Linked DNA regions of Homo sapiens: all the other regions are linked to region 2. Evidence: fine-mapped expression QTL. A gene starts in region 2. Each other region holds a variant in brackets. All regions are shown on one strand. Distances are from middle to middle. Region 1 has its middle 40 kb from the start of SKAP1. Region 2 holds the start of COPZ2 (coat protein complex I subunit zeta 2). Region 3 holds the start of CDK5RAP3 (CDK5 regulatory subunit associated protein 3).

Evidence for each region. PIP is the estimated chance that this variant, and not a neighbour inherited with it, causes the effect.
Region 1: its variant is fine-mapped to the expression of COPZ2 in monocytes (Fairfax 2014, PIP 0.95).
Region 3: its variant is fine-mapped to the expression of COPZ2 in whole blood (INTERVAL, PIP above 0.99).

What each region holds. Positions count from the first base shown.
Region 1 is chr17:48,466,375-48,474,637 of GRCh38, reverse strand. No RefSeq gene overlaps it. Among named protein-coding and RNA genes, the nearest start is that of SKAP1, 40 kb to the right of the region's middle. The variant T/C (reference allele first, on the strand shown) is at 4,619.
Region 2 is chr17:48,032,824-48,041,072 of GRCh38, reverse strand. COPZ2 (coat protein complex I subunit zeta 2) reads left to right here and starts at 3,276. Exons shown (of 9, transcript NM_016429.4): 1 at 3,276-3,406; 2 at 4,148-4,222; 3 at 7,129-7,210; 4 at 7,771-7,862. The coding sequence starts at 3,296. It overlaps MIR10226 (microRNA 10226), which reads right to left and starts at 8,191; the gene lies at 8,122-8,191. It overlaps MIR152 (microRNA 152), which reads left to right and starts at 3,826; the gene lies at 3,826-3,912. RefSeq lists an enhancer at 2,110-2,159.
Region 3 is chr17:47,970,207-47,978,206 of GRCh38, reverse strand. CDK5RAP3 (CDK5 regulatory subunit associated protein 3) reads right to left here and starts at 7,094. Exons shown (of 14, transcript NM_176096.3): 1 at 7,055-7,094; 2 at 6,800-6,845; 3 at 4,557-4,688; 4 at 4,176-4,276; 5 at 3,759-3,807; 6 at 2,870-3,048; 7 at 2,554-2,693; 8 at 2,194-2,338; 9 at 1,385-1,495; 10 at 297-375. The coding sequence starts at 7,060. RefSeq lists enhancers at 2,308-2,808, 6,105-6,732 and a silencer at 7,154-7,443. The variant A/G (reference allele first, on the strand shown) is at 4,904.

The sequences.
Region 1 (8,263 bases), 430 kb before region 2:
TAACTATTTGCAAGAGTCCAGAAGTTTTCTGACTAATTCTACTACCTCTAAGTCATAGTGCCAATCCATACCAAATGTGTAAGATGTTCTCCATTTAATTTTTTTTTTTTTTTGAGACAGAGTCTCTCTCTATCACTCAGGCTGGAGAACAGTGGTGCAGTTACAACTCACTGAGGCCTCGCTTCCCAGGGCCAAGTGATCCTCCCACCTCAACCTCCCAAGTAGCTGGGACTACAGGTGCGCACCACCATTCCCAGCTAATTTTTTTCTACCTTTGGTAGAGATGAGGTCTGATATTGGTTAATGCTGAAATGAGTTAAGATTTGGGGGACTGTTGATAAAGCATGATTGGTTTTGAAATGTGAGGACATGAGATTTGGAGGGGCCAGGGGCAGAATGATATGGTTTGGCTGTGTCCCCACTGAAATCTCAACTTGAGTTGTATCTCCCAGAATTCCCACATGTTGTGGGAGGGACCCAGGGGGAGGTAATTGAATCATGGGGATTGGTCTTTCCCGTGCTATTCTCGTGATAGTGAATAAGTCTCACGATATCCGATGGGTTTATCAGGGGTTTCTGCTTTTGCTTCTTCCTCATTTTCTTTTGCCTCTGCCATGTAAGAAGAGCCTTTCGCCTCTTGCCATGATTCTGAGGCCTCTCCAGCCATGTGGAACTGTTAAGTCCAATTAAACCTCTTTTTCTTCCCAGTCACGGGTATGTCTTTATCAGCAGCGTGAAAACGGACTAATATAGGGTCTTGCTATGTTGTCTAGGCTGAAGACTCCCCAGTTTTAAAGACATTTTAGGAGATCTCTCTGCTCCTGTTTTCTTGAAGGCTGGGCCTACAGCTAGCTCAGAATCAGTAATAATTTTATTACAAAGCTCTATAATAATAATAATAATAATAATTATTATTATTATTGAGAATGAGTCTCACTCTGTTGCCCAGCCTGGAGTGCAATGGCATGATCTCGGCTCACTGCAACCTCCGCCTCCTGGGTTCAAGTGATTCTCCTGCCTCAGTCTCCCCAGTAGCTGGGATTACAGGTGCCCACCACCATGCCCAACTAATTTTTGTATTTTTAGTAGAGACAGGGCATCACCATGTTGGCCAGGCTGGTCTCAAACTCCTGACCTCAAGTGATCTTCCTGCCTCACCCTCCCAAAGTGCTGGGATTACAGGCGTGAGCCACTGCGCCTGGCCTCTATTAATATATACTCAAAACTATCTCATAAAAATGTTTAATTTTCTTCCTCCTTGTACCATCATATTATGATAAATCTTACTCTATTCCTGGAAGGCAGCTGCAACTGGAATGGGTGGGAAGATGGGACAGAAATTAAGACAACTGCAGATAAGGAGGATGCCTGGGGGGACCCACAGGAATCTGAACTTCAACCCTGGCTCAGGAAACAGGGCAGGAAGGCTCAGGGAATACAGACCTGGAGAAAAGGACTAGAGATGCTCAAATGACTCATCATGTGCCTCAGGAAGAGGAATTTTGAAAGTATGGACACTGAGTCTTATGTTTCTAATCTCCAAGAAAACGTGATGCTTTCTAGCTGGCCCACTTCCTCATCAGTTAAGATTTTCACAGAGCCTCTGACATTTAGAAAGCCTATCTCCTGACACCCACCTTTTGGAATGTGGTCCTGGGCAGACTCAGAATTGCTGTTTAAAATGTTTAATTGAGCAGATGGTTTGGAATGTGAGGACTGAATACCCCCTTTTGAAAGCCAAGAGCTACGGGAGTCTATCAGGCATGGGATGGGGGAAGAGGAGAAAACGAAGGAAAGACATCATTCCAAATAGCCACAGGTGGGAAGCCAGAGTGGGGAGGAGGGGTGGCCTCACTTTGTCACACCACTGACCTGAATCACAGGGCAGGGCCGGAAGGGAATGCCAGTTGCAAATCTTGCCACCTCATCTCACAGCTCACCAAATATTACGGCTTCACACATAAAAACCAGAGTGCTAAGCTGCCAGGAGTGTTAAACTCAAGTAGCTGTGACCAGAAGCAGGCAGGCTCTGGGGACAGGAGTGGGGAGGCTGTCACAGCAGGGCCAGCAGCTCCCATTGGACCCTCCCAGCTCTTAGGTAGCAACTGGAACTGAGCAGGAAATGTAGCTGTTGCCCTGAGAGCCACCTCTGCTGCTCGCCTCTCCATGGTGACAGCATTTAGGGGAGTCCTGCACCTCCTTAGCAGGAGCTGGGCTGCCTCTGAGCAGAAAATAAATGCTTTCAAGCCCCATAAATCAATGAAAATTAGCGGGAGTCAAGGTAAAAATCCATCCTCCACCACTTGGATGTTTGAGCCAAGGTTCTTCTCGGTGATTTAGAGCCATGTAATTAGAGTGATCCACTCTCAGTTGCTGTTGTTGTTTTTTCTTCCTCCCTTCTCTTTCCAGACAAAGTCCTCTCCTATGAGGCAGGTTCCCACTGGCCTCTAGCTCCTCTGGCTAGAAACAGGTGTGTGCACCTGTCAGCTTGGCACCTTGATGGATCTCTGTGCTATCTTGGTTCGCCTCCTCCCTGCCTGCCCCTAATGAACAGTCCGCCCCAGGCTAGGTATGAGATGTGGGTGGGGAGACACACCATCCTTCATAGTCGCCCTCTATCCTCCGCAGAAGTAGAGAGGTGTGGCTGTTAATCCTCAGGTGAAATGTGGCCCCATCCCAGAGGTGGAGGAGGGGGCTGGAGTAAAGAGAGCCTCTGACCTCTGAACTGGGGAGAAGATTGATAGTGGCATGAAGGTTTCCCAGCCTTGCGACCCCTGCCGGATTAGGAACATAATCCAGCAGTTGACAGACATGTGAGGTGGGATTCAGAGGAGTTAGTTGCCTGGATTTACATTTTAAAAAGGCCCCAAGGCCCAGAGGGACAACATGACATGAGGAAATGCAGATAGAATTTAGAGTCCCAGAGACAAAGATTCAAATCCCATCTCCATCATTTCTTATCCGTATGACCATGAACAAATTTCATCAGCTCTTTGAGCCTCAGTTTCCACAATTTAATTTTACTTAAAATTAAAATATTGATGCTATCTCACACAGAATTCTAGTGAAGATTAGATGAAGTAATCAATGTAAAGTTCTAGCATATAATGCCTGGAACATAGCATTTTTTCCCAACGCGCTACCTTTCTGCCTCTCAAATCTTCTCCTTGCTCGAGGCTGTACAACAAGCTAGGAAAGGAATTACAACCCTAACCCAGCTCCTGACATCTTGCTCAGGAAGTGACCTATGTGGGGCTCTCAATCTAGATGCTCACTGAATGGCAGAGAAAACAAAATTAGTAGTTTCCTTCAGGAGGCCAACTAGAACATGCCGCCTCTGAAGAGTGAGGAAGCACGACCAGCATGCTGTGAGGTACCTTGCCAGGTTCAATTCCTGCCTCAGTCTTTTTTTTTTTTTTTTTTTTTTTTTTTGAGACAGGGTCTCTTATGCTTTGTCACCCAGGCTGGAGTGCGGTGGTGTGACCATGGCTCACCACAGCCTCAACCTCTCAGGCTCAAGTGATCCACCCACCTTAGCCTCCCAAGTAGCTGGGAGAAACACCCCCAGCTAATTTTAAAAATATTTTGTTGAGACAAGATCTCACTATGTTCCCCGGGCTGGTCTTGAACTCCTGGGCTCAAGAGATCCTCCTGCCTCAGCCTCTCAAAGTGCTGGAATTACAGGCATGAGTCACCACGCTCAGCCCCTCAGCCACTTTTAAGTTATGACCCTGAGCAATTCCCTAAGCTTCGGTATCTCCCAATGTAAAGTGGTTATAATTGTAATTCTTGCCACAGGGTGGCTCTGAGATTCAAAGGAAATAGTGAATGGGAATACCCTTTGCAAATGATTCCGTATGTATAATAAAGTAACAACTTTACTAACAGAATTTCTCTTAGGAAGGGAATTCTGCTTAGAAGAATGCCTTGATGTGCTTAACACATGGCAGATGTGCTCACAACTTCAGAGAAGGGAGAATATTGCTCTGCATGAGAGAGAGAAGAGAAAAAAGAGGAGGAGGAGCAAGGCACCAACGGGATGGAGAGAGGCCAGGTGTGGAGAAGGGAGAAGTGAAACTCCATACCGTTGGATTGACAAATGGGTGTTTAACAACAATGATGCCCATTGTGCCCCTTCAAGTTGTCTGTGCTGCATAATGTAAGCTCTCTCTTTCTCCCCTACAAAATCTTTGAGTATATCTATTAAACTCACAATTTTTAGAACATCAATCACAAAATCTGGTGATTTACACATATTCTTTCATTTATTTCCCCTATAACTTTTCACAGATGAAGATACAGGCTCAGAAAATATGGACAACTTGCTCAAGGTCACACAAGTGACAGCTGTTGGAGGAGGGCTCTGGATACTGTAGTGCGTTGCCCTTCTGGGCCTCAGTTTTTGAGGTTAAAAAGGTCACTTAACCTCCATGGGTCCCCAGTTTTTCTATATTTAAGAAGTATCTTGGCTGGGCACAGTGGCTGACTCCCGTAATCCCAGCATTTTGGGAGGCTGAAGCAGGTGGATTGCTTGATGCCAGGGGTTCGAGACCAGCCTGGCCAACATGGCAAAACCCCATCTCTATACAAAAATTAGCCGGGCATGGTGGCGTGCGCC[T/C]GTAGTCCCAGCTACTCGGGAGGCTAAGGCAGGAGAATTGCCTGAACCCAGGAGACAGAGGGTGCAGTGAGCCAAGATTGTGCCACTGCACTCCAGCCTAGGTGACAGAGCGAGACTCTGTCACAAAAAAAACACAAAAATCTTTATTGCTTCTTTCCTTGGTCACTCAGATACTTGATAGATGAAAGAGGTCATAGATGTAAAGTACTTTCAGAGATTTTAAACAAACAACTGTGAAAGAAAGCTATTTATTAATATAATACACATCTCCCCATGCTAAAAGGTCTACTTAATCCATCCTGTCCTAAGAAGCCAAAGAGAACTAACCTTCACTCCTGTTTAGAGAGAACAGTTTAGTTTGTCCTTTCTAGTCCAGTGCCAAGTCTATTGCACTTTGCTTTCTCACAATAGAAACCAAGCATATGGATCTCCCTTAAAACCACACAAGTCCAAATAACATGATCATCTCAAAGGATTCCCTTTCTCCTGGAAAATATTTAACAAACAGCTTTCCAGAAAAAAAGTTAAGTCCTGATTTGTTGCATTCGTCTATTTCCTTGGTGTAAATAATTCCACCATGCCTGATTTCAACTTTCTTCATGACATCATTGAAAACAGGATTAGGAAGAGATGTGCAGTTATAGTGTTTCTACCACCTAGGTACACCAGACATAAATAACCCTAAAAGGTTAGATAGCAATGAAATTTAGCAAAATAATTAGGAAGTGATGATATTTAGTATCTTTTTTTCTTTTAATATAATTTGGGCCACGTATAGGCACGGTGGCTCACACCTATAATCCCAGTACTTTGGGAGGCTGAGGCGGGAGGATCATTTGAGGTCAGGAGTTCAAGACCAGCCTGGCCAACATGGCAAAACTCCGTCTCTAATAAAAATACAAAAATTAGCCAGGCATTTTGTCACACACCTGTAATCTCAGCTACTTGGGAGGCTGAGGCATGAGAATCGCTTGAACCTGGGAGGTTCAAGGGTGACAGAATGAGACTCAGTCTCAAAAAAACCTATATATATATGTGTGTGTGTGTGTGTGTGCATAAATATATATGTTTGTATATATATACATATAATTTATTGTAACTTTATACCATTTTAGTTTGTTTTCTTTTCTTTTTTTTTGAGACGGAGTTTTGCTCTTATTGCCCAGGCTGGAGTGCAATGGTGTGATCTCAGCTCACTGCAACCTCTGCTTCCTGGGTTCAAGAAACTCTCCTGCCTCAGCCTCCTGAGTAGCTGGGATTATAGGCACCCACCACCATGCCTGGCTGATTTTTGTATTTTTAGTAGTGACAGGGTTTCACCATGATGGCCAGGCTGGTCTCCAACTCCTGACCTCAGGTGATGTGCCTGCCTCGGCCTCTGAAAGTGCTGGGATTACAGGCATGAGCCACAACATCTGGCCAATTTTAGTTCTTTTTAAAAACAATTTATTTTTGCAAAATTCTTGACAGTTTAACAATCAGTGCTCATGAGCAAGAATGTGGCAGCTTCACTTCCCTCCTTGTGACCTGCACTTGCACCTGCACTCAGGCAGGCCGGAGCACAGAAGCTGAGGCATGTTGGAGAAAGTGCCAAGTGCTTCTGTGATATATTTTTCATTTCTAAAAACAAGATTCACGAAGAAATAACATGCTGAATTGAAAAATGGTTATTTCGATCTCAAAGATTCTTTAATTGAAAATACTCATCTAGGTCAATTCCCTAGCCATGAGCAAGAATTCTTTCTGGTTCTGTTCTCCAGGGTACCTTATTGATCACAGTCCTGTTGGAAAACAGATGGCACACTCAAATGGGGTTTGTCTGAGTAAAGTTTAATGCAGGCATATTTACAAAGATATGGGCAGGGTTCAGAGAAACCCATAAGAAATGGTGCGGTTAGCCAGAATAGGGAATAATGACCACTCGAGGCCTAAAGGATTGGGAAGGAGCAGTCCTCACAGTCTGGAGAGAGTTGTAGGAGAGGGTTGGCCCACAGGAGCTGTGGCCTTTAGTTGAGGAACATAGCCACTGTCAACCTGAGGCCCAGCTGGGGGAATAAATATCCTGATGCTACCCTCAGCCTTTTCCAGTGGCTTGCTGCATAAAAAATTATAAATGCATTCTCCTGTTTCCCTATAAAAACTTCAGGTAAAGTCACTATTTTTTTTTCTTTTTTGAGATGGAGTTTCTCTCTGTTGCCCAGGCTGGAGTGCAGTGGCACGATCTCTGCTCACTGCAACCTCTGCCTCCCAGATTCAAGCGATTTTCCTGCCTCAGCCTCCTGAGTAGCTGGGACTACAGGCACATGCCACCACACCTGGCTAATTTTTGTATTTTTAGTAGAGACAGGATTTCACCATGTTAGCCAGGCTGGTCTCAAACTCCTGACCTCAGGTGATCCACCCGTCTTGGCCACCCAAAGTGCTGGGATTACAGGCATGAGCCACCCTGCCTGGCTGGTAAAGTCACTATTAATGTCACTTAAGTCACTGCTTCTTGAGCACTGACCATTGGCTGAGCCCAACCAGAAGCCAGATGACAAGGGAGCCTGTTGAAGCAATGAATAAAGGAAGCGAATTCATCAATTCACTTCTTAGTCCCAAGAGCAGGGGAATAAGGATGGCAAGTGGATTTGGAAGGGCAGAGAGATTATCCAGCACAGTTCCTCAATAGCTCACTGCAAGAAGTTATTCCCATTGAAGCATCTAGGCTAATGCTTCTGAAATTTTATTGGACATACTTATCACCTAGGGATTAAAATGCAGTTTCTGATTCAGTAGGTCTGGGGTGAAGCCTAAGAGCCAGGTGATGCTGATGCTGCTGGCTGGAGACTACCCTTTCAGTAACAGGATCTTAGGCTATCCCTGACCTCCATCCTAAGCCCCACTGAGCTTGTCTAGCTAAGGGGATCAGGGTCAAAAAAAAAACCCTTAGTGCTTCCCTTCCCACTTCCTACCTCTCTTTCCTCTCCTTCTACCAAAATGTCTTCCTGATGCAGCCCAACTACCTAGTAACAATCCAGAATTCTGTTCTCTGTCCTCCTCTTCTCCCAAGGCCAAGCTGGAAATGGGGTGAGTTTGTGGACCCCCAGTACTTTAAAGCAGACCTCTTCAATGGAGGAAATCCTTAGGGAATATTCCAAATTCCCCACAACCTCCCCTGTGTACTTTTTTTTTTTTTGAGACAGAGTCTCACTCTGTTGCAAAGGCTGGAGTGCAGTGGCATGATCTCGGCTCACTGTGACCTCTGCCTCCCTGGTTCAAGCAATTCTCTGCCTTAGCCTCACCAGTAGCTGGGATTACAGGCACTCGCCACCACGCCTGGCTAATTTTTTTTTCTTTTGTATTTTTAGTAGAAACGGGATTTCACCATCTTGGCCAGGCTGGTTTTGAACTCCTGACTTTGTGATCCACCCACCTCAGCCTCCCAAAGTGCTGGGATTACAGGCGTGAGCCACCACACTCGGCAGTTCTTATTTTTTCTCCTCATCCTCATCCTTATAGTCAAGGTTGCTGGAGAAAGCCAGTGATCTCCCAAAAGAAAAAAATTTTCAGCCAAGCCATGGGATGGGACTGGGGAGAGAAGTGTCCCCACTCCCCATTAGAACTTTTCATTGCATGGAGTAGCTCAATGGCCATTCCACTCGT
Region 2 (8,249 bases):
GCAAATGATTCTCCTGCCTTCACCTCCCAAGTAGCTGGGACTACAGGCACTCGCCACCATGCCTGGCTGATTTTTGTGTGTTTTTAGTAGAATCAGGGTTTCACCATGTTGGCCAGGCTGGTCTCGAACTCCTGGTCTCAAGTGATCTGCCCGCCTTGGCCTCTCAAAGTGCTGGGATTACAGGTATGAGCCACCACACCCAGCCAATATGGTATCATTGATAGGTACATTTTAATTATTATTAGTTAAAATTTGGTATTTGTGAATATTTATACATGATCTCCCTCATCCTGAATTCCTTTATTCATTTACTTCACAAATGCTTATTAAATATCTGTCATCGGCCAGGTGCAGTGGCTCATGCCTGTAATCCCAGCACTTTGGGAGGCCGAGGCAAGCAGATCACAAGGTCAAGAGATCGAGACCATCCTGGCCAACATGGTGAAACCCTGTCTCTACTAAAAATACAAAAATTAGCTGGGCGTGGTGGTGTGCACCTGTAGTCCCAACTACTCGGGAGGCTGAGGCAGGAGAATCACTGGAACCCGTGAGGCGGAGGTTGCAGTGAGCCGAGATCTCGCCACTGCACTCCAGCCTGGTGACGGAGCAAGACTCCGTCTCAAAAAAAAAAAAAAAAAATCTGTCACCAAGCCTTGTAAGAAACACTAGGGATTCCACAGTGAACAAGACAAACATAATTGGCCAGGTGAGGTGGGTCACACCTGTAATCTCAGGGCTTTGGGAGGCCGAGGCAGGAGGAGGGCTTGATCCCAGGAGTTCAAGACCTGCCTGGACAACACAGCAAGACCCTGCCTTTAAAAAAAATAATAATAAATAACCAGGCATGGTGGCACGTGTGTATCGTCCCACCTACTCAGGAGACTGAGACAGGAGAATGGCTTGATCCTGGGAGTTGTTTGTGTGTGTGTGTGTGTGTGGGTGGGTGGGTGGGTAGCAGGTTCTCGCTCTCTTGGCCAGGCTGGAGTGCTGTAGTGCGGTCTCGGGTCACTGCAACCTCCACCTCCCAGGTTCAAGTGATTCTCCTGCCTCAGCCTCCCGAGTAGCTGGGATTACAGGCACCTGCCACCACCCCCGGCTAATTTTTTTGTATTTTTAGTAGAGATGGGGTTTCACCATGTTGGCCAGGCTGGTCTCAAACTCCTGACCTCGTGATCCGCCTGTCTCGGCCTTCCAAAGAGCTGGAATTACAGGCGTGAGCCACCGTGCCCGGCCGACACTGGGAATTTGAGGCTGCGGTGAACTATGATCACACCACTGTACTCCAGCCTGGGTGATAGAGCAAGACCCTGTCTCAAAACAAAAAAACAAACAAACAAAAAGTCACATTCATTGGTTCTTGCAGGGCTCAAAGTCTGGGCGGGGAGAAGGAACACTTATAAACAAACTAGTAAAGGCTGGGAATGGTGGTTCACGCCTGTATCCCAACACTTTGGGAGGCTGAGGTGGGAGGATCACTTGAGCCTAGGCGTTCAAGACCAGCCTGGGCAACATAGTGAGACCTTGATCATGATCACCCTCCTCCCCCTCCTCCTCCTCTTCCTTTCTTTTTCTCTTCTTCTTCTTCTTCTTTTTTTTTTTTTTGAAACAGATTCTCACTCCCATTGCCCAGGCTGGAGCACAGTGGCATGATCATGGCTCTGCAGCCTTGAACCCCCAGACTCGGGTGATTCTCCCACCTCAGCCTTCTGAGTAGCTGGGACTACAGGTCACACCACCCTACCTGGCTAATTTCTTTGTAGTTTTAGTAGAGACTAGATCTTACCATGTTGCCCAGGCTGGTCTGGAACTCCTGGGCTCAAGCCTTCTGCCCACCTCAGCCTCCCAAAGTGCTGGGATTACAGATGTGAGCCATTGAGCCCAGACTTGAGACCTTGTTTCTACAAAAATAAAAAAAATAAAAAAATAAAAAATTACCTGGGAGTGGTTGCATGCACCAGTGGTCCCAGCTACTCGGGAGACTGAGATGGGAGGATTGCCTGAGCCCAGGAGGTTGAGGCTGCAGTGAGCCCAGATCGAGTCACTGCACTCCAGCCTGGGCAACAGAGTGAGACCGTGTCTCAAACAAGCAATATTAGTAAAAATAATATTTAGAGATTGAAAAAAGTGCAATGAAAGAAAGAAATAGGAACTGAGAGAATGTGACAGGAGAGACCTATCAAGTCAGATATGGTGGCTGTCAGGAGGACCTTTTGGTAATTATATTTCAGCAGAGGCTTGAAGATAAGAAGACTTGATGCATTCAGTGAGGAAAACCCCATTCTGTAACCATCTAGGGTAAGTGACTGTGGTCCACAACATAAGAGGGCTTGAAGAGAAGAATAGGGAAGAAATTTTGAGTCAAAAATCTGGGTTCTATCCCCAGTCAACTAGCTGTATAGTCTTGAAAAGGTCACACAACCTCTGAGTCTCTCTTTGCTTAAAATGAGGGTCCATTATGCCTATCTTACAGGTGTGGGCTATATTAGATAATGGATGTGAAGGTGTCAAATGTAAAATACACGCACAGTGTTTTTACCGGTAAATGCATACGTAGCACTAACATATCACTGGGATGTGAATTTCCCACTTGCCAGTGTACCCTGAAATGAGAGCTTGTCTTAGTTAGACTTAGACCAAAGAAACCAAAACATGCTGCAAAGCCCGATGTCATTGGTGGAGCATTTGTGCTGCTGGGCGTCTGTCTTGCTTCTGATGGTGCCATATCTGTGACTTAGGAGAGCCTGGGGAGGTGTCTCCGGGCCCATGGTTGCCTTCTGCAAGTAGTGAGAGAGGAATGAGAAAGCCTCTTCACAGAGGGGTGTCCCCAGAACTGTCCTCATTTGCTCTTGCTTATAGACCCTGTCCCTGAGATCTAAAGGGTGACCTGACGTATTTGTCCTCATGGTACCTACCAGAGGTCAACAGACAAAAGTGGGCTTTGCTTGTGTTTGCTGCTGGCCCCAGGACAGCCTATAGACACTGGCGCACACCAAAGCCACAGGCCGGAGAGCAGGCAGGAAGCAGGACGAGGGCTGGTCTTGGGGCACCCTGAGGATGCAGAGTTCGGGGATGTAAGGGACTCGGGAAGGAGCCAAGGAGGAGAGAGGGAGAGGAGAAGTGGGGGAAGGAGAGGTGGGGTGAGGGCGGGAGGGGAGATGGGGGAGAACGAGCAAGAGGACGGGGCCCCGAGGAAAGGGAGGCCACGCGCGAGAGGGGGCCGCGGGGCGGCGCGGAGGCGGGGCGGCGGCGGCGGGCAGGCGGCGGGCGGCGCTGTCAGTGCGAGGCGGCGAGCGGAATGCAGCGGCCCGAGGCCTGGCCACGTCCGCACCCGGGGGAGGGGGCCGCGGCGGCCCAGGCCGGGGGCCCGGCGCCGCCTGCTCGAGCCGGGGAGCCCTCGGGGCTGCGGGTACGGAGCGGGCGGGCGCGGGGATCCCGGGCGGCGGGAGCTGGGCAGGGACAGAGCAGGGTTAGGGGGAGCAGCCAACTCAGAACTCGCGCGCCCGGCGGCTGGGAACTTTGTGTCACCCCTGACTGGCCCCAGGACCCGGGAGGAAAAGTTCGTCCCAGCGCCGACCGGAGAGGAGGCCTGTCCTGAGTCCGTCGGCGCGGGGCTGAAGTTCTGGGTCCGTTTGGAGTGGGGGTGGCGGGTGAGTTGCGATTCCGCGGGGAGGGTAAGGAGTGGCCTGTCCGTCCCAGACTCGGCTCCCATCACCGGTGGGTGATGGGCATGCTTCTGGAGTCTACCCGGGCCAGGGCCTGGGGGCGCGCTGATAGCGCAGGTCCAGCCCGGCCAGGGATCAGCTGGAAGAAGGAGGCTCGGCCCGCTGTCCCCCCCGGCCCAGGTTCTGTGATACACTCCGACTCGGGCTCTGGAGCAGTCAGTGCATGACAGAACTTGGGCCCGGAAGGACCTTCTGCACCCAACGGGCACAGCGCCCACTCGGGGCCTGCAGTGGAACATCTGCCTGGGAGTGGAGTGGGCACCTGGGTTGGCCCATGTGGCACAGGGCTGGGCAGAACCAGCTGTGGACCTTGAGGACTGGGGTTGCTGGGGCCTGAGGATGTATCCTAGGGCCAGCAGATCCCATAGACACAGGGTGTCCACCTCGAGTCAGGGGCCAAACGGAACTCTCCTCTCCGGTGTCAGTTGCAGGAACCTTCCCTCTACACCATCAAGGCTGTTTTCATCCTAGATAATGACGGGCGCCGGCTGCTGGCCAAGGTAACCTCTGACCCCACCCATGAGGGACACAGTTCCCACTCAGCTGACACTCCTGTCTCAGGAGAAACTCCACTGTGATCTCTGTGACTCAGGGCAGCTCAGCTTAGACCCCTCCAGAGGTCCTTCTCATCCTCCTGCCTTGTCAAGGTGCTGCTCCCTGAAATGAGGGGTCTCCTCTATTTCTACTCATGTTCCCTGAAATGTTTCCTTATCATCCTGCTACTGGCCAGTTGGACCTGGGCATGGGAAGGTTCTGCCTAATGGGTCAGTGGAGTGTTGAGCCTGGGACCCAGGAGTCTTAGTCCCCAAACCCCCACACAAGTTCTTTTGTTCTTTGGGGTTTGTCTCTAAACCTCCACTTTTGTTCTACAGCTTGGTAAACACTAACGATTTAGTCTAAGGAGTCTAAGGATTTAGAACCAGATGGGATTTTAGAAACTGTATAATCCAACTCTTTAATTTCGTAGATGAAGAAAATGAGGGGTAGAGAAGCTAAGTGAGTTGCCTGAGGTCACAAGTATTAATATCCTAACAGATCCAAACTCAAATTTTATTTATTTACTTATTTAATTTTTTCACTTCTCCCATTTCACAGGTTTCACAGGCAAACTCGGGTTTTTTGACATGAAGCTCAAGGTGGTTTTCACTGTACCCCCATTCAATTAGCTGTTATCTATCCTAGCAAACATGGCCTGAGCGAACCAAACTAAAATAATCCAAAAATAAATTTCTGCTGTCAACACAATTAATTGTAGGGGAGCTATAGCATCTGCATTAGCTATGAAATGCATTATAAGGCCAGGTGTGATGGCTCATGCCTGTAATCCCAGCACTTTGGGAGGCCAAGGCGGGCAGATCACTTGAGGTCAGGAGTTCGAAACCAGCCTGGACAACATGGTGAAACCCTGTCTCTACTAAAAATACAAAGAATTAGCCAGGCATGGTGGTGGGCGCCTGTAATCCCAGCTACTCGAGAGGCTGAGGCAGGAGAATTGCTTGAACCTGGGAGGCAGAGGTTGCAGTGAGCCGAGATCACACCATTGCACTCCAGCCTGGGCAACAAGAGCGAAACTCTGTCTCAAAAAAAAAAAAAAAAAGAAAAGAAAAAGAAAAGAAATGTGTTGTAAGGCCAGGCGCAGTGGCTGATGCCTGTAATCCCAGTACTTTGGGAGGCCGAGGCGGGTGGACTGCTTGAGCCCAGGAGTGCCAGACCAGCCTGGGCAACATGGCACACCCCATCTCTACAAAAAACAAAACAAAACAAAAACAAAAAACAAAAAAACGAAAATTAGCCGGGCGTGGTGGTGTGTGCCTGTAGTCCCACCTACTCGGGAGGCTGAAGTGGGAGGATTGCCTGAGCCCGAGAGGTTGAGGCTGCAGTGAGCCATGATCGAGCTACTGCACTCCAATCTGGGTTATAGAGTGAGACCCCATCCCAAAAAATAGATTTTCTGTTTGTTTATTTGGAACTGAAAGTTTTTTGTTTTTATGAAATTCAAATAAGCAGCGGCCACTAGGGAGATGGCTAATCTGCCTGCGGATTGAGTATTAAGTGGCAAAATCCACATCCAGAAAATTGAAAACTGAGCTGACCACACCTTGCCCCAGCAGATGGTCAGAGGTGGATCAGCAAGGCCAAAGGCTTTTCCTCCCTACAGATTAAGAAACTGAGTCAGAGAGAGAGGCTCACCATTCCCAAACAAAAAACATTAATTTAGTTATGGGATATGTGTGAGGAATTGTTTCTTAGATATTTAATCTTCACTATAACCCTGTCTGCAGTCAGACCGTCCTTAGTGGTCAAACCCAGCTTTGGCCTCACAACTGTGAGATGTTGGGGAAGTTACCTGACTTCTTTTTTTTTTGAGACGGAGTCTCCCTCTGCTGCCCACGCTGAAGTTCAGTGGCGCGATCTCAGCTCACTGCAACCTCCGCCTCCCGGGTTCAAGCGATTCTCCTGCCTCACCCTCCCAAGTAGCTGGGATTACAGGCACCCGCCACCATGCCCAGCTAATTTATTTTGTATAATTAGTAGAGATGGGGTTTCACCATGTTGGCAAAGCTGGTCTGGAACGCCTGACCTCAGGTGATCCACCCGCCTCGGCCTCCCAAAGTGCTGAGATTACAGGCATGAGCCACCATGCCAGGCCATTACCTGACTTCTTGATGCCTCGGTTTCCCCATCCGTGTAATGGGGATAATAAAGTAGCTGTTGTTATTATCATTATTATTGTTTAAGAAGGACTCCTGGTTTTGCCGTCTTTCCTGTAGAGACTCAGGGTGCTGTAGAATTAGTGTGCCCTCGTGACCATGCCAATCCTTAGCACCCTGCACATCTGCTGAATGTACAAGATCCTCCAAGAAACCAGGAGGGGACTCCAAAAGCAGGCCTCAATATCCCTCTACTTTTTGGGACTTTCTTTGCTCAGAATTTGTTTTGGAGGGGGCCAAGCACAGTGGCTCATGCCTGTAATCCCAGCACTTTGGGAGGCCAAGGTGGGCAGATCACCTGAGGTCGGGAGTTCGAGACCAGCCTGACCAACATGGAGAAACCCTGTCTACTAAAAATACAAAATTAGCTGGGCGTGGTGGCGCATGCCTGTAATCCCAGCTACTCAGGAGGCTGAGGCAGGAGAATTGCTTGAACCCGGGAGGTGGAGGTTGTGGTGAGCCGAGATCGTGCCACTGCACTCCAGCCTGTGCAGTAAGAGCAAAACTCCATCTAAAAAAGAATAATTTGTTTTGGAGGAAGTAATGAGCCTGCAGGCCTAGGGTGCAGTAATGGAGAGATGGGGCAGGGAAGCAGGATCCCGCTTGCCCAGCGCCTACTCTTTCCTGCCCCCCAATCTAGGGAGGATCCAGGCTGTGTGGAAAGCTATGGTCCTTTCTCCTTCCCTTTCTCATAGTATTATGATGACACATTCCCCTCCATGAAGGAGCAGATGGTTTTCGAGAAAAATGTCTTCAACAAGACCAGCCGGACTGAGAGTAAGTGTCCCCCTCTTCCTCCAGCAGACTATCAGATGCACACTGTCATCTTCTCCATCTGGACACATCTGTCCCCATCAGCCTTGCACACCCACAGGCCATTTCCCTTTCTTCAGAGGCTTTTTGTCCTCTCCTTCCCTGCTGTTCTCCACTCCCTTCCTCCAGGGAACCTCCACTCCCTGTCACTCTCCAGTTCCCCCAACTACCCAACCCCCCAGCATCCCCAGGCCTCTCTCTAGCTGAGGAGGCCAACTGTGTTGTGGTCCCAACCTGGATCTGGTCCCAAGGTGCTGCACAGGGTGGGAGCGTGGGCAGGAGGTAAACGGGTCAACAACTGGGCTTGTTGACTCCTTGGCCTGAGGCAGTCCCTAGAAATAGAGTAGCAGATAAGGGGAAGGACACGGGGCTGCCTGATGGTAGTGTCCCTAGTGCTGGTCTTTCCAAGGGTTCTCCAGAAAGGGGAGAAGGAAATAGGAGAGTCACAGAGTCATACATGAGGAGGAGGGGCTAGGCTAGGACCAGGCAAGGTGGCCAGGACTGAAAGCTCCCTCCACTTCTAGGTGAGATTGCATTTTTTGGGGGTATGACCATCGTCTACAAGAACAGCATTGACCTCTTCCTATACGTGGTGGGCTCATCCTACGAGAATGAGGTGAATTCAGGAGGTTGGGGCAGTAAGAAGGGTCTGTCTATGGGGAAATGTTGTTATTTGGAATCTGGGCTTGAGGCTGGGACCTGGAGGCTCACCATTGGACCCCTTCTTTTAGGCTCCATGGGGTAGAGGAGGGCAGCCAGAAGGGTTCTTTCTGGGACAATGTGTATCTTCGATGCCCCTTAGTTTCCTTGGGAACCAGGAATGAAGTAATCACTTCATCTTCAAGGGAGGCTTTGTCCTTCTTAAACATAACTAGAGAAGGATACACTCAATGTCTCCCAGTGGAGAACTCCAGTTTCCCAGCCCAGACACATGGAAGTTCCCTCTAATGTCACACCGCAGTCAGTCTCCAGCCCAGGCCTCTGAAACTCTCCATTGCTGCCC
Region 3 (8,000 bases), 63 kb after region 2:
TCCCAGCTACTCGGGAGGCTGAGGCAGGAGAATAGCTTGAACCCAGGAGGTGGAGGTTGCAGCGAGCTGAGATCATGCCATTGCACTCCAGCCTGGGCAACAAGAGCGAAACTCCGTCTCCAAAAAAAAAAAAAAAACCTCTCTTGGTCCCCCTCAGCTCACATCCTCATCAAGGTTTTGAGAAACAGTTAAATGTGCAAGAAGCCTCATCTTAGCGCTGCATTTTTTGTTTCTAGACACGTGGGGGCCCTTGAGCACCCCACTTTTGCCAGGGCTGCAGGGGATGGTGCACTTACCCTGGGTTCCTGCTTCCAGCACTGTGATCTGCAAAGCAACAGCATCGTCTCCCCAGTCTATCCCATCACCTCCAGGATCCTGGAAGGAGAGCAAAGAACCACAGCAATGGGGGGAGAATTTTCCTGAGCCAAGGAGCCAGAATAAACCAAAGCCCTTGATGAGGTCAATGGCTGCACATTCCAACTCTATTAAGGATTTGCAGCCCTGACTTAGGTGCCAAAAATGGCAGTATGGCCCATCATCCCTGCTCTGTAGTGTTCCCACCTGCCTTTACCCCTACACCCTGTACCAAACACCAAGAAAAAGGACATCAAAATTTAACTCTCACATGGGCTGGGCGCAGTGGCTCACGCTTGTAATCCCAGCACCTCAGGAGGCCGAGGCAGGTGGATCACCTGAGGTCAGGAGTTACCAGCATGGCCAACACGGCGAAACCCTGTCTCTATTAAAAATACAAAAATTAGCCGGGCGCGGTGGCTCACGCCTGTAATCCCAGCACTTTGGGAGGCTGAGGCGGGCGGATCACGAGGTCAGGAGATCGAGACCATCTGGCTAACATGGTGAAACCCCATCTCTACTAAAAATACAAAACAATTAGCCGGGCGTGGTGGCGGGCGCCTGTAGTCCCAGCTACTCAGGAGGCTGAGGCAGGAGAATGGCGTGAACCCGGGAGGCAGAGGTTGCAGTGAGCCAAGATGATGCCACTGCACTCCAGCCTGGGCGACAGAGTGAGACTCTGTCTCAACAAACAAACAAACAAAATAAAAAATTAGAGGGGTGTGGTGGTGGGCGCCTATAATCACAGCTACTTGGGAGGCTGAGGCAGGAGAATCACTTGAACCTGGGAGGCGGAAGTTGCAGTGAGCCGAGATTGCACCACTGCACTCCAGCCTGGGCGACAGAATGAGACTCTGTCTCAAAAAACAAAACAAAACTCTGACATGTGACGTGTGAAACTCTGCCTCCCTTGGACTATACCTGGTCTTAGAGCTATGAACTTCAAGTGATGCCGTTACAGACACAAATGACACTTTTCTTATGGTTAGAGTAGTGATCAGAGAGAGACAGACTGAGAAGGCCTCCTCACCTTTGAATCTGATTCCGGGAAGATGCCCCAGTCGATTCCAGCAGCCTCGGCAGAGATGCCAGAGTCAGTCCCCTCAGACACTGCCTCTACCCCAAAGTCGCCCCAGTCAATCTGGAAAGGGAAAGAGAGTGTTAGCTCATGGAAGATGGATTTAAAAAGGGCCGGGCATGGTGGCTCATGTCTGTAACCCCAGTACTTTGGGAGGCCGAGGATAGTGGATTGCTTGAGCCCAGGAGTTTGAGACCAGCCTGGGCAATATGGCAAAATCCTGTCCCTACAAAGATGTTAATAAAAAATTAGCTAGGAGTGGTGGTGCAAACCTGTAATCCCAGCTATCTTGGAGGCTGACTTGGGAGGATCGCTTGAGGCTGAGAGGCAGAGGTTGCAGTCAGCAAGGATCATGCCACTGCACTCCAGCCTGGGCAACAGAGCAAGGCCCAGTCTCAAAAATAAATTAATTTAAAAAGGAGGGTGGGGCTGCCTTCCCACAGGCCTCAGCTGCTTCTGTAGAGAGCACACTGTTCAAATGCAGTGGCCTCTAAGCTACCCCAAAGAAAGCCCATCTTCAGAGAGCTCACATGATGGAGGTTCCGAGTTCAAAGCGAACCACCTTGCAAAGCCTCTGTGGCACTCACTCACCTATACTCAGAAAAATAAAGGAGTAGGGCCTCCTGGGCCCTTCTACCTACAGTCACTCTCACAGAAATCCTCCCTTCTTCTCTCTGGGTCTTGGGTTGGGCTGTTGGGGGTGGGGAGGGGACAAGCAGCTCCCACTCCACTCCTACAGCTCATCACAAGGCCCATCTTACCGCATCTTCTGCCACCTGCTCAGGAAGCTCCTCGAGGTGGGGTCGTTCCACCACAGAGGGCTCTGTCCCTGTCCTCCACTCGTACACCGTTGAGTTTCCCCGCTTCTGCACGAACCGCAGCATTGGCAACACCTGCTCTGTGGGGCTTCAACAGAGCACACAACTGACTCTCCTGCCGACCATGCGTAAGGCCAACACTGGGCTTTGGCCTGGGCCACATGGTCAAATGGGCAAGGCCCCCACAGGTTCAGGTGTGTAAAGAGTTCAAATGTTATATGGGAACAAGACAACTGGAGAAGGGTCATGAGCTGGGGAACACAGGCAAAGCACCCCCACCAGGAGAAGCTGAGGCCTCTCTACCTCTCACACACAAACCCCACAGACGCCTGGTACACGTCAATGGCTTCCCCCAGGGACTGCTGAGCCGCTGCCCCAATCTCAGCCAGCTGACTCGGCAGGTCCTTCACCAGGGCCAGCAGTTCTCCTCGGACATTTTCGCCCTAGAGAGGGGAGAAGAGGTGGAGTCCAACAGATTGAAGAAAACATCCAAAGACCGAAGAAAAGTAAGACACTGGCCCAAAGGGGGTGCAACCAGGCTGAGGGGTCAGACGGGGTCAGAGGAAGACAAGCAGGGGCCCAGGTGTCCTCTGGCTGCGAAGAGGCTGCCGCCGCTCACCGTGATGCCATACTGCTTGCAGGAGTGGTAGAACTGCTCCCGCATCTCGGCAGCCCCTGCCTGGCACTCCTCCTCCTTGCGGCTGTATTCTTGCTGCAGCTGCTGGCACTTGGCAATCTGCTTCTTCAGTGAGGGGATCTCATAGTTGACATTCCGAACCAGGAGGCTAGAGAGTTCCACTGAGAAGTGCCCAGGAAATTCAGCCCAGGACACCCCCACATGAGGCAGGCATGCCCCAGGATGCACACACATCCTTTGTGGTGGTGAAGAGCACGAAGTCAGCTTCCCAGCCCCACTTGTTCCCAGCTGTGGAGCCTAAGACAAGTTGTTTAACCCCTCTAATCCAACCCTCATCGGTAAAACAGCGACAATAACATTTATCATGAAGATGCAAGAGAGAATCCACATGACACACCAAGCACAATTCCTTGCATTTAGTAGATGCTCAGGAAATATTAGCCATTATTATTATTTATACTACACCCAACCCAAACACAGTTAGTCCTGTAGTTGCTCTCAGGCACTTGATATTCGCTCCCAGAAAAACCCGTGCCTCTTCTGCCTTGTGTAGAATGGGGGTGCGGGGGTGGGGGTGGGGGCAGCACACTCCCGCTAACCAAGAGGTGAGTGGTGGAGGACCCACACACACCTGCTCGCTGAGGCACGGCGAATGGCCACTACCGGCCTGGACCTCCTCCTTCCCCCAGCACTCCACTCAGGGAAAATCAATTCCATCAAAAACAATTGATTTTACCACCTACAAATGGGCAACATCTACACTCCAGTCTCTTCCCACTCACAGACTGTGCCTCCTATAAGCCTGGTATCTCAGAACTCTGAGAGTGGGCTTCCCCATGGATACCAGGGCTCCCAGGCCGGGCCACTTTACCTAAGTAGGTGTTGTCCTTCTCATACAGAGCTATAATCTCCTGCCAATCCTGAGTAAGAACAGAAAAACAATGTTAAGCCAGAAAAGCACTCGACAGCCACATCCCAGCTCAATCCCTAAACAGGGTAAGTTCTCCCAGCCTTTACATCACATCAAACACAAACTCCTTGTCCTTCTTTCAACTCTGCTGGCTGGACCACCCACTTTAAGAGTGCAGGCAATCCCTAAAGCAGTGGGTTTGAAAATTAAACTCAGGGATAGGATCCACTTTTGGAGTAAACTATAGAGACAGAGTGAAAGTTCAGGAAATATTCTATGTAGGCATCCCCACTGGAGCCTCAGAGAGACCACAGAGGCTATGACTCCTCGGATTGGATGTCCCCAACCACATACTACCGGCCCTTGGCCCACACTTGCCTTCATCCGCTGTGAAGAGTATCGGCCAAAAATATTCTTCGTGGAGGCCTCTGTGCCTTTGAGAAGGTCCAGGATTCTTAGGCAGTGAAAGTAGTGAATGTCTAGAAAGCAAGAGACGGGATTTCGAGAACTAAAGTATCTTCTTCACCTACTCTGGGCACTGCAGGTGGCTGATTCATGTATAATATACTGCCAGTAACTTTAGTGTGTAGCTTTTCCCTAAATCATTTCATAGTGGAAGAAGCCAGCATCTATACCTCAAATAAAAATCGCTCCCTCTCTAAAGGCCAGCCCTGGTGGCTAAATAACAAGAGAGTAGCTCAGCTGATACATACTACCTCAGCAAAGAGGGGACTCCAGTGACAGCCCCTAAGCACTCACAGGACCCAGACAGCAGCTGGGCGATCTCTTCGCTCTCTGGCATGTCCTGGATGGCAGCATTGATCTTCTCGCGGATCGTCAGCACCAGACTCTGCCATTTCAGGCTGCAGTGCCTTCTGTCCACCAGCCAATCTACATGAGAAGCACCCAAATTAGAGCATTCCCATTCACATCACCAAAATTCCATCACTAATTCGAGTGAAATACACTGAAATTAGTCTAAAAGTTTTCTTTACATTGGTTAAAGTATGGGGGTCATGGGAAGATGGGAATAAAGACAAGCCCAAAGAGATGCCTGGGGCTAAACCAGGCTCTGACAATCTGACTTCATTAGCAGTGTGATTTTT[A/G]TAGAGCAATTGCCTCAACACAGGGATAACAAAAAGTTTAAATTGGTCCTGAAAGTGCCACTTTTGACCATTCTCAATTCCCCATAATATTTTTGCTTCTATGGGTAATTATATCTTTCTTCCTGACAAGAGGATGCTGCTCAACTTCCATTTCCTCAGGGCTGGGGTTAACCATGACAATGGAAAATACAAGATGGTTATGCCAAGTACTGGATGAATGAACAGCTGCAAAGCCCCTAATACCTACAGCGCCCTAAGGACTAGATAACATGACTCTGTTGTGAACAGTGAAGTACCACCCTGTACATGTGAATACCAATGGGACTGACCTCTCAAAGTCTGGGCCCAGATTTGTGGCTTCAGAGCCATGCATATTTCCTCAGTGAGAGCTAAGAGCTGAGCTTTGTGGTCAGATGGTCCTGGGTTCTCGTTATCAAGTTTCTTGAGCAAGTCTACTATTCTGTGCCTCAGTTTTCCCACATGTAAAATGGGGAATAATAAGACACTGACTAGAAAAGGGAATGCAGGTAAAACACTGAACAGTGTGCCTGAGACACGGCAAGGACTCAAAAAATGACAGTGATCATTTTTATCATGTCAAGTGCCTAAAACAGCACCTGGTACAAAAAAAAACCCTCAATGAATGGTGGTCATTTTATTGGTCCTTTTCATGACCAAGAACAAGCTCACACACCAAGACTGCACATGGGCTGAAGGGCCAGTACAAATCTGAAGGGAGGCTAAAGAAGCTTCCCCCGTGACCACCAAGCAGGACTGACTAAATGGCACTACAGAGTGGTGAATTCAGAACTTGAACTCTGCCAACCGGTCAAACGCTGGGGTCCCACACTAGTATCAGTTATACTCTCTCTGCTATATTCCTGTAAAGTTTTCAGAAAGAAAAATTCTGTTGATGTCACAGAACTAGAAGCAACGGACTGGGGTAGTCAAACAGACACCATCTTAAGGACAAGATTGGCATCAAATCCATGAATCCAATAAGCATTTTAAAATGCCAGGAGCTGTGTGATCAGATGAAGAGGCCTTCCCTGACTATGAACTGGGGAGGAAGTATGTAAGCCCCATACAGACAACCTGGAGATGGCCTGGACACTAAAAGGTTTTCATTTGCAACTGGGTCTTAGGTCCCTCTTCCTCCTAAAATCAAGGGGGAGGTGGAAGCTTTTTAAATGAGGTTTTTTTTTTTTTTCCTGGCATAATGCAAAAGGCATGGACAGTGGGTCAGACAGACTTAAGTTCCAATTCAGATGTGCCACTTAGTGGTTGACTGTTTTTTGTCTTCTTTTTGAGATGGAGTTTCGCTCTCGTTGCCCAGGCTGGAGTGCAATAGTGAGATCTCTGCTCACCGCAACCTCTGCCTCCGGGGTTCAAGCAATTCTCCCACCTCAGCCTCCCGAGTAGCTGGGATTACAGGCATGTGCTCCCATGCCCGGCTACTTTTTATTTTTATTTTTTTGTATTTTTAGTCATGGAGACATGGAGACAAGGTTTCTCCATGTTGGTCAGGCTGGTCTCGAACTCCTGACCTCAGGTGATTCGCCCACCTCGGCCTCCCAAAGTGCTGGGATTACAGGCATGAGCCACCGCGCCCGGCAGTGGTTGACTGTTTTTAAAGCGAGTCATTTATCCTGTCCCTGAATGATACGATAACATATGTTATTAAAGGAGAAAACGCAGGTCAAACAGACTGTACATATGGTTCGTTCCCGCTGCTATCAGGGAAGCAGGTCTGGCCACAGATGGGGCATAGAACGAGGCCAGTGGTCAGCATCTCGACTCAGGCTTTCAGGGGTCAGAGCTCCCGGCTATTGGACACAGGGGGCAACGCACAGGCCTCCCCCCGACAGCCAGCTGCGCGGTGGCGCCCCCTCCTACCGAGCAGCTTGCTGGTCTGGATGTCGATGGGCACGTGCTGATGGTCCTGGCGGGAAACACGGTGAGGAGGGGGGCGTGAGCGCGGAGAGAGGACGTACCACTCGCGCGCTCATTTCAACGTCCCAACCACCACCCTGCAGGGCCAGAACGGGGCCAGAGCGATGGGCTGGGTTGAGCCGCTTCCGGAGGGAGACCGGAGACACAGGTTAGGGGTCCGCGGCCAGTCCCCAGCACACCCAGCTCCTGTCCCCACACCTCCATCTTTCCTCCACTTCCGCTTCAGGCTGGAGACTGTGGCCCGCCCCGCCCTACCACCAATCCAGTGGCGTTGTGGCCGAGCCTCCGTTTAGACACAAACGGGCATCCTTCGGCCACGTCGCCGCCTTCCGTACAGCCAATCAGGGTTTACGCTCCACTCAGGCCTCAAGCCCCGCCCACCCCAGGCTCCGAATGGCTGAGCTCGGGAGGGGCGGGAGAATGGAGACAGCCAATTGGAGACGCGAGGCGGGCTCAGGGCAGGGGACGGGAGGGGGTGCGCTGCAGCGGCCGTGGGATTGCGACAGGCGGCGCTCGAGAGCCCAGCCTGGCAGCCGCTTCCCCTGGCGGGCACTGGGTCTTCTCCACGCAGATTGAGACGTCTGCTGGCGGGGTCCTAGCGCCGATCTGGGAGGCCGTTGCAAATACCTTCTTCCCTCCTTGCGTCGCTTTACCATCCAGAGCAGTGTGCAGGTCTCTTGTGGCACTTGTCATGCTTTGCCTCCTCATTCAGTTTCTCTAATAGACATGGTTGAGCACCTGCAACGTGTTGGGCGATTAGGGCAGGGAAGGGGAAGGAAGAGAGTCGGTGAGACGTCCCAAAGAGAACACCTACATTGAGTCTAAACGAAGAGCTGAAGATAGCTGGGTGATGTGGGAAGAGGAGTTTTAGGTGGAGGAGACTACACAGACAAAGCTTAGGTGGCCACAAACTGCAAGAGGGGTGCAAGCAACAACAGGCAGGCAGGACGGGCAACGTAATTTGTGAGGTCCAGTGCAAAATGGAAATGCACAGCTGCTTGTTACAAAATGATGAAGAATTTCAAGATGAAGTCGGCTCCGCGGGCAGGCCAACCTCTATACCGTAGATGGTTTGAGGCAGCGAGTGGCTAGAGGAGAGGCTGTAAGGGTGGAAAGGCCATATCAAAGGGAGACTTATTAAGGA